Linked DNA regions of Homo sapiens: region 1 is reported to be linked to region 2. Evidence: microRNA targets listed by miRTarBase, many of them from high-throughput screens and not tested one by one. Region 2 holds a microRNA gene; the other region holds the end of a gene's coding sequence.

Region 1 (4,387 bases), not on the chromosome of region 2:
CCTTTTCTTTGGCCTGCTGTGAATGTCCAGTTGAAAATCACAGATGTCCTCTATATACCCTATGCCTCTGGAGCCCTTCTTAGTTATTGTCTCTCTCTGCTACTAGAGTGCCAGCTCCTGGGACAGGGATTTTGGCCTTTGCTGCCAGCCACCTCCTGGCTGACACCTGGTCACCTGCACCTTACTCAGTTTGAATGACTTTTTATCTTTTGAGACAGAGTCTCACTCTGTCGCCCAGGCTGGAGCACAGTAGCGTGATCTCCGCTCACTGCAAGCTCTGCCTCCAGGGTTCAAGCGATTCTTCTGCCTCAGCCTCCCAAGTAGCTGGGACTACAGGTGCCTGCCACCACGCCCAGCTAATTTTTTGTATTATTAGTAGAGATGGGATTTCACCGTGTTAGCCAGGAAGGTCTCGATCTCCTGACGTCGTGATCTGCCCGCCTCGGCCTCCCAAAGTGCTGGGATTACAGGCGTGAGCCACCGCGCCCGGCCAATTTGAATGACTTTTGTAACAACTCAGATCTCAAGTTTGTTACTGATTTCTCTTTTTTTTTCTTTTAAGGAATGTGTTTACTGTGAAAACAAGGAAAAAGGTAATATTTGCATACCATATGAGGAAGATATTCCTTCTCTGGGACTCAGCGAAGTGTCGGACACCAAAGAAGACGAAAATGGATCCCCCTTGAATCACAGGATCGAAGAGCAGACGTAACCCCTGCCCCACCTCAGCCCGGCAGCCAGCGAGGTACACCAGGTGGTGCTTGGAAGAGATGAAAGATCTTCATGGCTGTTTCCACTGAAATGGACACATATGCTCATGTTGCTTTTTTTGTTTTAGAAAAAAAAACAACATAGTTTTCTGAAGGGGCGACTTAAAACTGTGGAGAGTGGGGAGAGTTCGGAAAGAAATATGTTTTTATATATAAAATATATATGTGGAGTTTTGTGGGATGGGGAAGAGATTTTAGTTGTTATTTAACTTGAGAAAGACTAAGCGCCTCTTAGTGTCAGGGAAGTTGCCTCAGTGCTCCCAGAAGTCCTGTGACTGTGACGAGACCTCTGTCTGCTGCACCAGCTGGGGACTCTGGCTTCCAGAGCTTTCCCAGGGTGTTTGGATCAGATCAAATTTTGTCCTCTCTTGGGGACTGCTTTTTATCTGAATTATCATTTAGTCAAGGTAGAGTGTTTTTTTATACATACCAAATGGAGATAGCAGCCTCTCCTAGTTTTATTTCAAAACGTTTCACATTAAATGGTGTGAAGCGTTGTTTGGCAAACCAACAGCTTTGGCTTCTGGTGTGGTCAATATTTCAGTCTGACATAGGTTTTGTTTGTAGTGAACAAAGTTGAAACATTTGCTCTGGACTAAAGAAGCCTAGTGGTTTGTGTGGCCAACTCCATCGGATGAATGCACACGCAGACAGACCCTCTGTATATTTCTGCATTATTCTTGTCTCCTTTTCAGACCATGATGGCCAATATGGAGATTAAAATATGTCATCAGTCATCTCTTTATGGTGACTTCCCTTTGCAAACCAGGCTGTGACCAACACATGTGAGACCCAGTCCTGTTTGGTTTTCTTCCGTTGGAACCACCCAGACATCTGCTTCCACCCAGCCAAGCCCACATCACATCTCCTGGCCGAGAGCAGCCACTGCCACTCAGTCTGACAGCTTGCGACTGCATCTGTATTTTCAGGGGTGCAGTGAGCTCACCTCTCCCACTGCACCCTGGGTTGGGTGCACAGCCCTCATTCTTTTCATGAGCCCGACCTCTCTCGGAGCAGCTTCAGGCCTCTGCCAGTGTCCCCAGCACTTTTAGGTCATTTGGACACTTGGGGAAAAGTGAGGCCAGTCTGCCCGGCTTTTTACAAAACCTCATGTTGCATTGTATATTCCAAAGATGGTTCAGAAAATTTAATATTGGTCCCTGGTGGAAATTCAAAGTTATCACTGAAGAACAGTTGACTTAAAATTGGACCAAGACTATGAGGCTTAAAAGGGACCAGGGTTTTCTTTTTTTTTTTTTTTTTTTTTTTTTTTTAGATGGAGTTTCTTTTTGCCCAGGCTGGAGTGCAGTGGCGCCATCTTGGCTCACTGCAACCTCTGCCTCCCAGGTTCAAGCGATTCTCCTGCCTCAGCCTCCTGAGTAGCTGGGACCACAGGCGACTGCCACCACACCCAGCTAATTTTTTGTATTTTTAGTAGAGACAGGGTTTCACCATGTTGGCCAGGCTGGTCTCGAACTCCTGACCTCAAGCGATCCACCCACCTCGGCCTCCCAAAGTGCTGGGATTACAGGCGTGAGCCACCACGCCCAACTGGGACCAGGGTTTTCTGTTTTTTGATGGAGGTGAAATCTCTTTGTAATCCACTAGGTTTTCATCGTAAAACCATCTTATGCCTGACTATTAAACCTATTCTTCATAAACACAAGAACACTTTAATTTTTCGTTAATTTACAAAGTAACATCAGCTGCCTATGCCTATGATAAGGTAGCAGTCTGCATTCTTATGGCCATTAGATGTTACAAACTCCTTGCCTCTAAAGTCAGATCATGAAGGGATAGGTGTTCATCTAAGGTTACAGTTATGTTACCGAAACACAAAACTGCCAAAATCTTACTCTGCTGTTATGAATGTTTACCATCAGCATTATTTTATCATTTAATATGTGCTCACTGATTGTTAACTGTAGCTTCAGCGCGTGCCAAGCAGTTGACTTAATAGGATCATCTTGTGAATTTGTTTACGTGATGCCAAGCATCAAGTCATGTTTTCTTTAGTGTGTGTGCTTACACAGGTGTTAAACAGTTTTTCTCTATTTTAAACTGAGCCTTCTTTTTAATATATTCCCGAAGAGATATGTAAATAAGCTCTCAGAGTTTCTGTGATGATTTGTTGAGCCTTGCTGGACAAGTGGTTTGTTTGTGTGCAAACCAAACTTTCTTTACCCAGTGCAATAGATTTGTTTGACTGCTTGTGTCTTTTTATGACCTGTTTGCCTTTTAGAAAATTGGTAAATAAAGCAAGTATATTTTTATTTTTACTTGTATGTATTTTTCACATAGCACAAAGGAAAACCTGAATAGAGAGCAAAGATTATTTAAAAAAAATTTTTTTAAAGAACTCCAGGAATTCTGCATTAAAGAATCTTACATCCCAAAGGCCTCCTGGCGGTCAGCTCCCTTATAGCGTTTGCTTCTTGCTGGCTCCCTTTCTTCCTGTGCGTGTCACACACACACCCTCCTTCAGGCTGCAGGAGTGAACTCACGTAATGCAAACCTAATCGTGTCATGCCCCACAGTCTTTTCACTTTTAGTTGGAGGGGTGCAGCTGTCTGGCTCAGCCCCAGAGTGCCCCCAGCTCTGCCTCCACGCACCTCTGTCTTCCCTGCATCCCTGCCCTGGGTTACCTGGCCTTTCCAGGCTGGCTGCCTGTCTTCTGGTCATCGGGCTAGGTAGGGCTAAAGGTGGGGCGGTCAGGAGGCTCCACCAGGAAGGTCACATGTCTCCATTGCGAATGATATGGGCAGGGCGGCATAGTCCCCTGACCCCAGCCCTTCTTTCACAGTGATGAATGAAGCCTTGTGAGGCCAAAACTGTGGAAGCCCGAAGAGTTGCTCCCCATCCCTCCCACTCTTCAAACCATGACCCTGGGGGTGGGAGCAGAGAGCTGAATGGATCCTGAACCCAATGCCCAGCCTCTGAGAAGCTCCCTGAGCAGAAGGGAGGGGCTCTCCTCTGCCTGCTAGCCTGGCTGCCTAACGCCAAGTGCTGATGGGATAAAAGGCAAAGTCCTCCCTAGCGAGCACAGAGGCCTCTGCAAACTGCTCTAAATGGCCAGATATGGTTGTTTCACTGAACCTGAGTGCTTTTGGAAGACTCTTAATTGTATTTTTATTTACCATATAACCCCAAGGGATTTATTTCCAAACCAAACGGAGATTCTCTGAGTCTCCTGGGCAGATTGCCCACAAGGGGCCTGGACAGTCTACAGGCCGCAGCTGCCTTTGTTCCCCCAGGGATTTATGGCCTGCCACCCCCACTGCTAACTGGTATCCCCGCAGCAACCACCACCCTGCCCAGCCTCTGCTGGCCTCTGTTCCTGGCTCTAGGGGGATCAAAGGACTCAAATGCTCAGGAAGTCCATACTCAGGCAAACTTTGAAGGCAGGACTGGCCCAAGGGACAAATGGCAGGAAGTGTTGGCTAGGGGAGGCTGCTGTGAAGGAGGGAGGGAGGGCTTGGTGACCTCAAGATAGGCCAGGCTTCTGGGACAAAAAGGCCATGCCAGCTGGCCAGTGCACCGCTAAAGGGAATTGAAGCTGACCTTGCAGAGGGGACCTTGGGCAACTTCCAGTCCAACCAAGAAGGATTTTGCTGATG
Region 2 (4,372 bases):
CTAGGGTTCCCAGATGAGACTGTCCACAAGGAACCCTTGGAGACCACATTAAGCATCTGGTGCTTTGGCAGCTTTCCCCTCAGTGTGGACTTGCAAAGTGCAGTGGGCTTACAGCCACCAAGCCAGGGCAAGGCAAGCAGTGCCCACCGGGAGAGTGGAGTGTGGGCTTCAGGGGGCTGGAGGGGTGAACACAGTGGATGCTCATTATAGACACCAGCAATGAGGCCCCAGACCACTTTCTAACAGAAATCCCACACCTCAACCACCCCTAAAAGACAACAGCACTGAAAAGCCTTGGCTTATTTTCTTAAATAAAATCCAAACACAAATAAAACCCAAAGGAGGCCAAGCTGAGCCACTTGTTCTCAAAGCTTCTGGCTGGTCTCATGTGGGCATTCGGGGATGAGGAGTGGGGGTTTATCTACACAGAACTGGGGTCAGAGGGCGGAAGCCACGGTTGGGGAGCCCGTGGGCTGGCCAGGGCATCGGCACACTGAAGGTCACAGACTGTGGAAGCTGCCCGTGGCACCACATGGCTCAGTTAAACTACCAGCCAAGAGAGGTGTGTGACAGGATGTTTGCCGATGTAGAAACATGTATTGTCGCAAGGCCTAAAAACCACCATCAGATGGTAGCAAGCCGAGGGCAGGGACTGTATTTCATTAGTTTTATACATCCCAAGGCTTCATCTAGAACAGACATTTAAAGTGGATGGATGCTAAGAATTGACAAGCTCTTTGGAGTAGTTGCCACATCAGACCAAATGCAGGACACATTCATAGAGTTAAAACAAGTTTGGTTTTCCTAGAGTTGGCGTATGTGGGTGATGGGGAGGAAGTGCTGCTTGCTCAGCGTGGCAAGGAGCTGCTCATGCAGGGACGAAGCAAACCTTTTTCCACTGAAGTATTAGGAGGACGATGAAGACGACAGACTTTTCAAAAATCATGATCACGATGTAAAGAGCGCACTGCCCGACCCAGGCTCCACACTGCAGAGGGTCTCCTGCAGGGACAGGCGGGTGCTTAGTCACATGGGGCCCAGGCATCTGAGTGAGATGATGTCCCCACCCCACTCCCCCACACGCACCCCAGAACACTGGCTCTAAAGCTCTAAAGGTACTTAATGAGCCCCCCCAAAAGTCCAAAGGATTACCTCATCCTTAACAGACAAATGCAGTATTTTAAATAAAATCAGAGAATTCCTTATTTGAAGATACTAAAATGGCCTTTCTTTTAAGAGATTCTAAGATAGGATTAAAAAGCACTAAAGTTAGGAAGTGCTCATTGCTGGAGCTCAGAAAAGCTGTTCTTTCTGCCGGCTGGCAGCAGAAGCTGTATGAAGCAAGACTGCTATTCTTATCCGTTGTTGATTTTTCCAGTGACAGCGGGGCTGCCCCTCCCTTCTCTGTCCATGAGTGGACTGATGTTTGTGGATGATGAAGCAGGACCCAGTCGCTTTGTTTGTCTCCCACCTCCCCACCTCCCATCCCTTACCCAACTCCCCGGGCCATCCCTGATACCTCAGCCTCTTGAGAGCAGAAACGTGACTCTGGAGGAATTTGGACTCTACCTGTCCAGCATGGGTCACCCCAAACACCTTGGCCAGGGACAAGGAAGTGAAGAGAGAAGTCCTTGGGGCAAGGAGGTGGGAGGGATGGGCCGGGGCCCAGGGCTGTGACAAAGGTCCATCTGGGACCCCTTCAGTCACCATGCTTGAGAAACCGAGGGACCTAGTAGTACAAGCTGGAGGATGTGCAGGCCTTGGAATGCCTCCAGGACATTTTGAACGGAGAGAAGACCAGCCCCTCCAGGGAATGATCCTGTGATATGAAGAACCCTAGGGTGGCTCCTGGGAGCCACATAGGCCTCCCCAAAGTGGGAGACCCAGGGGAGAGTGGGATGTGGGAAGGTTGCCTGGGGCTCACCCTGGAAGTTCTGCCAGAGCTGCCTTACCACAGCTGGCCAGAAGAGGGGGTACAGGGTAGCATTTTGGGGGTGGCGGGGGGGCGGGAGGCTGGGGGGTAAAGGCCGTAATCCAGGCTATGAGAAGATAATTTGGTCCAAAGAGATATCTCCAGCTTCTCACTTGGCTTTATTGTTTCTGCAGCAATCCCTGTTTGGGCACCCATGCTGGAGGCCCATGCCCTGCCCAAGCCTGTCAGCTGTACACAAGGGAATGACTTTATGCAGCTGCAATGGACAAAACACCAGGCCATTCCCTTTTCTGGAAAACCCTGGGAGAAGTGTGGCAGAAACACATCAGTCGCCTCTTCTGAGGTCTTCCTTTCTACTTTCACTTAAGGGATAGGAGACATTTGAGCCAAAAAACCCATTTCATAAGCATAATCCCTCCTTGCTAGGTTGTTAATGAGTTTTGCAATCCTTTTCCTTTCGGTAAGTCACCTAACCTTATCGAGAACAGTTCTCAAAACAACAGATGAACTTATTTGTGAGAAACCATTAAGTAATTAAGTAGGTTTGAGGACAGTTGGACAGAAAGCGCCACTAGGAAATCTCTCTGTGAGGACTGGAGTGTTTGGGAGCCAGCGGAGCGCGCGGCACCGCTTATTTACTATGGAAGGATGTCCGCTCGCTCAGTGTGCTCACTCCATCTGCTCTTCAGTTTTAAGTGACTGACAAGGAGGAAAATGCTTTTCCTCCCATACGCCTCACATTGCCCCAGTGTTCTAGGTTTCTGCTACACAACTTAGCTACAGCTGCCTCTTTAGATGCTAAAATAAGAAAGTTCAGAAACGTGAGAAAAGAGAAAAAGCACCTGTGACCCCGTCTGGCACACCATTTCCTCTGGGAACCCAGATCTCACGCAGCCACCGTTGGGAGAAGCACACGTGGCTGCTGTGTTTCCTGATTCCTGTTTCACTTGCGAGTCTTTCAGATGTCCCCCACAGTCTCCTCTTTAAAGGACAGACATGCCAGGCAGTGTTGCATGTCCTGCTTTGTCATTGCTGTTATTGTTTTCTTAGAGATGGGGTCTCACTCTGTCATTCAGACTAGAGTGCAGGGGCATGAACACGGCTTATTGTATCCTCAAACTCCTAGGCTTGAGTGATCCTCCTGCCTCAGCCTCCCAAGTACCTGGGACTAAGAATGCATGTCATGTGCCTGGCTAATTAAAAAAAATTTTTTTTTTTGTAGAGACGGGATCTTGCTTTGTTTCCAAGGCTGGTCTTAAGCTCCTGGGCTCAAGCGATCCTCCCCGCTTAAGCCTCCCAAAGTGCTGGGAATGACAGGTGTGAGCCACTGCACCTGGACCTTGTGTGTCTTGCTTTTTACTGCAATGAACAACCTCAGGCATGTGGGTGTTTTGTTTGGGTTTAATTATTTCCTCAGTAGAAGTCACAGCAATAGGGGCCAAAAGGAGGGAACACATCTGTGGCGAGAGGCTTTCAAAAGGGAGAGTTTGGCCAGGGATGGGCAGCAAGACCCATGAAGCACCGTGACCCAGATGTCAGGGCTTCCACATGGGAAAGAGTGGCCTGGTAATCAGAGTGCAGACACCATGCGTCACCTGGATCTGGTCTCAACCGCCGGGGCTGTGTGGCTTATTTCCCTGAGTCCCGCATTCTCATCAGCAAACTCTTGGCCTTCTCTTCTAGGAACAAAAGACACATCCTAGAAAAATAAGCCCCTCTTCTTCATTTACATGAGAAGAGAGCTGTGGTACCTCTTCCTCAAATGGATGGGCAGGATAACAGGTGTGGGAGGTGGAATAACAGCCCCACACAGTTGCCTACATCCAAATCCCTGGAACCTGTGAGTGTGTAGCATCACATAGCAAAGGGGAATTGAGGCTGCAAATGGAATTAAGGCTGCTAGTCAGCTGACTTTAAGACAGGGAGAGTGTTCTGAGTGTCCAGGTGGGGCCAATGTAATCACAAGGACACTTTAAAGTAGAAGGCTGCAGGAAGTCAGGGCAACTCGATGTGGGATAAACCCAGCGACTCTTGTTGGCTTGGACGACGGAAGGAGGGGCCGCGAGCCAAGGCTTACAGGCAGACTCTAGAGGCTGGAAAGGGCGAGAAAACAATCTTCCCAGAGGCTCCAGAAGCCAGCCCCATTGACACTGGGACTTTAGCCCAGTGAGACCCATGACAGACTTCTGAACAAAAAAAGATAATCAACTTGTGTTGTTTCAATTTGTGCCATGAAGTTTGTGGAAATCTGTTACAGTAGCAATAGAAAACAACAGAAATTGATGGAAATAGAAAACAACAGGTAACTGAGCAGACAAGCTATCCTTCCTCAGCCTGGGGAAGACTCAGGATGGTCCCCACAGCTTTATTTGGAGACATTCTGGCTTGAAGACTCTGGCTCCCAAAGGCAGTGGTGGGATGACCCAGGGGCAGGGGCTG

Evidence for each region. Region 2 holds the annotated microRNA hsa-miR-8064 (AGCACACUGAGCGAGCGGAC, at 2,584-2,603, opposite strand). A microRNA usually pairs through its seed, bases 2 to 8, with sites in the 3' UTR of a target mRNA and lowers its output. Matches are read on the target gene's strand: a 7mer-m8 pairs with bases 2 to 8, a 7mer-A1 pairs with bases 2 to 7 and ends in A, and an 8mer does both.
Region 1: miRTarBase lists PER2 as a target of hsa-miR-8064. Seed matches in the 3' UTR shown: 7mer-A1 at 2,931-2,937.

Annotation. Positions count from the first base shown.
Region 1 is chr2:238,242,700-238,247,086 of GRCh38, reverse strand. It overlaps PER2 (period circadian regulator 2), which reads left to right. Exons shown (of 23, transcript NM_022817.3): 23 at 563-3,043. The coding sequence ends at 712. Among named protein-coding and RNA genes, the nearest start is that of HES6, 4.9 kb to the right of the region's middle. RefSeq lists an enhancer at 1-939.
Region 2 is chr3:52,843,940-52,848,311 of GRCh38, forward strand. MIR8064 (microRNA 8064) reads right to left here and starts at 2,613; the gene lies at 2,524-2,613. STIMATE-MUSTN1 (STIMATE-MUSTN1 readthrough) reads right to left here. Exons shown (of 10, transcript NM_001198974.3): 5 at 890-1,002. STIMATE (STIM activating enhancer) reads right to left here. Exons shown (of 8, transcript NM_198563.5): 5 at 890-1,002. RefSeq lists an enhancer at 546-1,046.